2 linked regions of the Homo sapiens genome follow. The protein of the gene in region 2 purifies or fractionates together with the protein of the main gene of each other region. This does not show direct contact. Each region holds a gene or a part of one and is shown on either strand. Other genes may lie near its edges.

Region 1 (3,656 bases), on a different chromosome or scaffold from region 2:
GGAAAGGGCTCCCATATGAAGGCATGATAGGCGCTAAGACTTTCTATGTTGGATGTCATATCCTCACCATGACTCTCAGGGGTAGGTAGGTTCTATTCTTATCCTTGTTTTATAGCTGAGAAGGAACTGGTTCAAGGTCACTTACTTTTTTTTTTTTTTTTTGAGACGAAGTTTTGCTCTTGTTGCCCAGGCTGGAGTGCAATAGCACAATCTCGACTCACTGCAACCTCCGTCTCCCAGGTTCAAGCGACTCTCCTGCCTCAGCCTCCCGAGTAGCTGGGATTACAGGCGCCTGCTACCACGCCTGGCTAATTTTTTTGTATATTTAGTAGAGATGGTGTTTCACCATGTTGACCAGGGTGGTCTTGAACTTCTGACCTCAGGTGATCCACCCACCTTGGCCTCCCAAAGTGCTGGAATTACAGGTGTCAGCCACTGCACCCAGTCCCACTTACTATTTTAAAGTGACAAAGCCAGACTTGACTCAGTGTCCTCTAATGATCTTTATGGAGAGCTTATCTACTACAGGGAATCGTGAATCGTGTGGTATGCAATCCCATGTTTGGGTGGAACAACAAACACATACACATTTTTTTCCATAGTGGAAAAATGAGCTTGTCACTTGACTTGTCTCTCGGCCTCAGTTTCCTCATTTGCAAAATGCCATAAAAATATGATGAGCAATAGTGTTTGGCACGTGACAGACAATGGATAAGGATCTTTAAAGACAATCATGATTATTTATCACCATTATCACCAGGTGCCAGTTATTGTTCTCACTGTTAGTGATACAAAGACAAACAATGCACTTAGAAGAAATTCCTGGAATACAGTGAAATGCTCACAGCCCGACTCTCCAAGAAAAGCCACGACAGATGTAGGACTGGAAGGCTGTCCCAGGGTCATCTCATCCTAGCAGCCACCTGATGCCTGCATCTTGACATTTTATCCTTCCAAGTCTGTTACCCGTCAGTGGATCCCAGGGGCTACCCCAGGGACGAATCCAACAAGTAACCACCACTGGGCGGGGAGGAAGCCAGTGTGGGGGTTGCTACCAAAACAGGCCTGGGCAACAGCAGGCAGCCGACTGGGGAAAGTCAGCAGCTGCAGTTGGCCTGGTGTCCTCGCTGCCAGAGAGTGATGAATGGAGCAAGAGAAGAAAAAAAAAGCCAACAAAGGTGTCCCTAATCTTGATGCAGCTTCATTTTTTTTTTTTTTTCTGGCTGACCATTGAGTGAGAACTTAAGCCTCCGTCCCTTTTCTTTGGCAGACATTTGAAACTGAAAGATCTCATTTCTTCCCAACAGTGAGATGTCATGGGTAGAAGCATTGAGCAGGCAACTGGCAAGGGGTGGGGGGTGGGGAGAATGGGCATGTGACCCACCACACTTGTCCTTTTTCTTTCCCTCCTCCCCACTCTCTGCTCCACCCCCTCTTCCCCATCCTGCATCTTTAGAGAATATTCTCCGCACACAACAGTGAACGCCTGCCCCCTCCTCCCGCCACCCCATTATTATTTTTCTGCTCAGGAACTAAAGGCTAAATGGCCTGCTGGGGAAGGTCTAATAACAAAATGTCACTGTATCCAGTTTCTTAGTTTTCTCTTTCTTTATCTCACTCTGAAACGGATTCGAGGCAGCAGCAACTGAACCTTTGCTGTTCTACCTAAAGGTGTGCAGCCAGCTGGCCATCTCCATGCTGGGAGAGGCAAGACGGGAGTTTTTTGCCCAGATCTAGCCCTCAGCCCTGTCCAAGTGGAGGTGCTTCCCTTAGCAAATAGCGAGGAGCTGGTGATAGGGATGTCACCAGGCCACTTCTCCAAGTGAAGTGGATTCCTCTTATCCAGGGCCCCTTGCTGAACTGGAGGCTGCAGAGCCTCATCACCTAGCACCACATGTGGCTGGAGAGAGCTCCTGATACACGTCATGGACAGCCACCTGACATTAGGTCGGCATTCCCTGCAAGTGCCACTGAAGCCTGATCAAGGCTTCTGCCACTGAGGGAACCGTGCAGCAAGACGGTGGCCACCTTCGACTCACACTTATTCTAGCCCTGTTTCTCCTTACGTGCACCTGAACTTGGCGTGCCAACCTTCCAGGTAACTAAGGCAACCTGATTCTCTTCCCTTCAAAAGGGCAGTGTTCTTCTCACAGCAATCTGGGACCCCAGGGAATTGGAAAATTGGGTCAGTTTGGATAAGCCCTCTCCCCGGGAGGGGGAGGGATGGCGACAGAGAGGAACGGCCTTGGCTACTCATTCCCTGGCTGTTGGGAGCATTTACCCAAGCGACTTGGAAAGGACTGTGAACTCCTTGTACACACTGCATCCTTCAAAGAGTCCCTCTGCCTCCATCTCTCTCTCTTCTCCCATCCCCAAAGCTCTGGTTAGCCAGCTGCTCCCAGAAGGTGGAGTTTATGCCAAACAGTCTCCTAAGCTGCCATGAGGATCTCACTGGCTTCTCTGGTTAAGGCTCCTTAGCAAAGTCTCTCCCTGAGATCCACATCAGGTTCACCCATTTTAAGAATAAATGGTAACTCTCAAGCCCAGCTGTCAACAGGGCACTCTGGGGCCCTGAGATGGATTAATAAGCCAGGACAGAGCCAGACCAGGCTACAGCTAGTATGAGTGTAGATGCAAGAATCCAGCTAGGTGGGCTCCAGTCCTGGATGCAACACCTGTTGGTGATCTTGAGCAAGTTACTAAACCTTTTTTTTTGAGATGGCGTTTCGCCCTTGTTGCCCAGGCTAGAGTGCAGAGGCGCGATCTCAGCTCACTGCAACCTCCGCCTCCTGGGTTCAAGCGATTCTCCTGTCTCAGCCTCCTGAGTAGCTGGGATTACAGGTGCGTGCCACCACACCTGGCTAATATTTTGCATTTTTAGTAGAGACGTGGTTTCACCATGTTGGCCAGGCTGGTCTTGAACTCCTGACCTCAGGTGATCCACCCACCTCGACCTCCCAAAGTGCTGAAATTACAGGAGTGAGCCACTGCGCCCGGCCGGTTACTTAACCTTTCTAAATTTCAGTTCCCTCATCTGAAGTACTTACCCCATATGGCTGTTGAAAAGATAAAATGAGGTCACAAAATAGAATGCTTAGCTCAGTGGGCAGCAGAGAGTAAACACTCAATAGATGCTGGTATTGACTATTATTTTATTCTTCTCTGGGTTACCAAATCTCTTGCTTCTCCCTATTATCTATCCTAGTGTTTTTAAACCTCATTTCTTTCTTAATAATTGACATAGGATGTTCCCAGGCATGGTAGACTCCCATGGAATACGTAGATCTTAAACTCAAGCCTCAGAAAAAGATAAAAAGCCCTCTAATCACTTGTATGTAAGTATTATTATTATACATCTACAGGTATTAGTGGATCATTAAGAGCAGCAGCATGGAGAATAAAGAGGTTCTGGGTAACTTCCCTGGCAGACTGGTTATAACTCTCACTTAAGAAACCTTGTTGGGTGGGGCACAGTGGCTCACACCTGTAATCCTAACACTTTGGGAGGCTGAGGCAGGCGGATAACTTGAGGTCAGGAGTTCGAGACCAGCCTGGCCAACATGGTGAATCCCTGTCTCTACTAAAAATACAAAAATTAGCTGGGTGAGGTGGCATGCACCTGTAATCCCAGCTACTCGGGAGGCTGAGGCACGAGA
Region 2 (2,690 bases):
CCAATAGAAGTCAGATATGAACAGACTCTCCCAGGCATCGTTGGTCCTGGTCTGATTTGAAACTACTTGACATTTGGTGCTATTCTTGCCACCTGTGGCAATTCTCACTGAGTTCACTTGAGAATGGACCCTACCCAAATGCCCCTAACACCTGGTTCTCTGTGTCTTCTTGAGTCTTAGGTCCAGCAGCTCCAGATCTCGGTTGACCAACATGGTGACAACCTGAAGAACACCAAGAGTGAAATTGCAGAGCTCAACAGGATGATCCAGAGGCTGCGGGCAGAGATCGAGAACATCAAGAAGCAGGTGGGTGTCACTCCCTTCCAGATGGAGCACAAGGCCAGGGGCCTCAGGCAGACATCTCCAGAGTGGACAAGCAGATAAAGCATCAGGCCAGAAGACCCTGAGCTTGTTGCTGGGAATTCATAGCTCTTTGTGCAAGGCATACCCAGATTTTTTCAGCAATATCCTAGTTGGCACACCATGACGCTCCTGTGCATAGGTTTCTTGGCTCTTCTTCATGGGTTTTTGCTCATTTTTATTTAATCAGTCTGGTGGAGGCATTGGTGGGCTATGGCTGGAGTGAATGAGATGCATAAGTCTCAGGGAAAGTGGGCAGAACAGATAGAATCTTGACATCCTAACCCAAGGAAAGCTGGACCAGGGGAGGGGACAGGTGTAGAGGCCTTGAAGGCAGGGCACTGCTGACCACCTATCTAATGCCTTTGTCAATAGTGCCAGACTCTTCAGGTATCCGTGGCTGATGCAGAGCAGCGAGGTGAGAATGCCCTTAAAGATGCCCACAGCAAGCGCGTAGAGCTGGAGGCTGCCCTGCAGCAGGCCAAGGAGGAGCTGGCACGAATGCTGCGTGAGTACCAGGAGCTCATGAGTGTGAAGCTGGCCTTGGACATCGAGATCGCCACCTACCGCAAACTGCTGGAGGGCGAGGAGTACAGGTGAGGGGTTAGGCAGGGTGTGAACATGAGGGCCAGAGAGGTCCAGGGCCATGAGCTTATTTATGCCTCTGCCGGGCTGCAAGCATCAGTGTTGTGCCGGTGCATTACGAACCAGGACAGCTCAGCTAATAGGTTCACACTGGGCCCTCAAACTCAGAGGCTGCTCAAGGATAAGAGAGGTGAGTGAGGCATGCTTATTGAACAAAATTCTGTGCTCCCTGAGGCTCACCGCCTTTTCTTTCCCCTACAGAATGTCTGGAGAATGCCAGAGTGCCGTGAGCATCTGTAAGTACCTTCCACGCCTGCTGTAGTTGTTCATTCACCCGGGTCTTGCCAGACCCCTGGGGTGCTGGCAGCATTGGAATAACTGTGTCTTTTGTGTCTTTTCTGCAGCTGTGGTCAGCGGTAGCACCAGCACTGGAGGCATCAGCGGAGGATTAGGAAGTGGCTCCGGGTTTGGCCTGAGTAGTGGCTTTGGCTCCGGCTCTGGAAGTGGCTTTGGGTTTGGTGGCAGTGTCTCTGGCAGTTCCAGCAGCAAGATCATCTCTACCACCACCCTGAACAAGAGACGATAGAGGAGACGAGGTCCCTGCAGCTCACTGTGTCCAGCTGGGCCCAGCACTGGTGTCTCTGTGCTTCCTTCACTTCACCTCCATCCTCTGTCTCTGGGGCTCATCTTACTAGTATCCCCTCCACTATCCCATGGGCTCTCTCTGCCCCAGGATGATCTTCTGTGCTGGGACAGGGACTCTGCCTCTTGGAGTTTGGTAGCTACTTCTTGATTTGGGCCTGGTGACCCACCTGGAATGGGAAGGATGTCAGCTGACCTCTCACCTCCCATGGACAGAGAAGAAAATGACCAGGAGTGTCATCTCCAGAATTATTGGGGTCACATATGTCCCTTCCCAGTCCAATGCCATCTCCCACTAGATCCTGTATTATCCATCTACATCAGAACCAAACTACTTCTCCAACACCCGGCAGCACTTGGCCCTGCAAGCTTAGGATGAGAACCACTTAGTGTCCCATTCTACTCCTCTCATTCCCTCTTATCCATCTGCAGGTGAATCTTCAATAAAATGCTTTTGTCATTCATTCTGAGCAATGGTCTTTTTTCCCTGGGGAGAGGTCTCTAGAATCCTGTATAACTAGATAATTTTGGTGAAGGTGTATGCTTGCGGGTGTGAAGGATCTGTTTATACAGATCTGGGTCATCGACTAGTTTCTCAGGTCTCTACTTCTAAGTTACTCAAATTATTGGGGGAGAAGTACAGTGTACAGAGGCTGAAGGTTGCCTACAGGGCAGTTGTACAGATTGAAGGGGCATCCAACAATTATACACACATTGTCCATTGTAGGGCACCCTGGGGTAGCACCATTTCAATGCTGATCCTGGAATAAACCTGGAGGGAAGGGGTTTAAGTCTGCAGGTGGGGGGCATTTGATAGGTGTGAGAGAAGCAGGCCAGGGGTCTCTGCTGAATATAGAGCAAGAAGTTATGGAGCTTATGAGAGTGCTTATACTCTGTGTCTAGCAAGGCCTCCCTATTTTCATGAAATTCCATGCATGGGGCTAAATCTCACTGGCCCAACAAGGCTTTCAGGAACCTGTTCCAAGAATCAACAAGGTCACGGTTGTTGGAGGGAGGTGTGCATGTGTGTCATTCTCCTAGAGTTTTCATGAGCTGCTCACTTCCCCAGCTCCTCAGGGGTGCCTGGGGTTATGTCTGTGGTG

The links.
Region 1: the proteins of KRT4 (region 2) and WWC1 purify together in Homo sapiens (co-immunoprecipitation; one large-scale study listed by IntAct). This does not show direct contact.

Annotation. Positions count from the first base shown.
Region 1 is NC_000005.10:168,298,145-168,301,800, reverse strand, and holds part of WWC1 (protein KIBRA), read right to left. Parts: intron 1-3,656. UniProt on the Homo sapiens protein: Regulator of the Hippo signaling pathway, also known as the Salvador-Warts-Hippo (SWH) pathway.
Region 2 is NC_000012.12:52,805,910-52,808,599, reverse strand, and holds the end of KRT4 (keratin, type II cytoskeletal 4), read left to right. Parts: intron 1-180; coding exon 181-306; intron 307-735; coding exon 736-956; intron 957-1,206; coding exon 1,207-1,241; intron 1,242-1,349; coding exon 1,350-1,531; 3' UTR 1,532-2,051; downstream 2,052-2,690.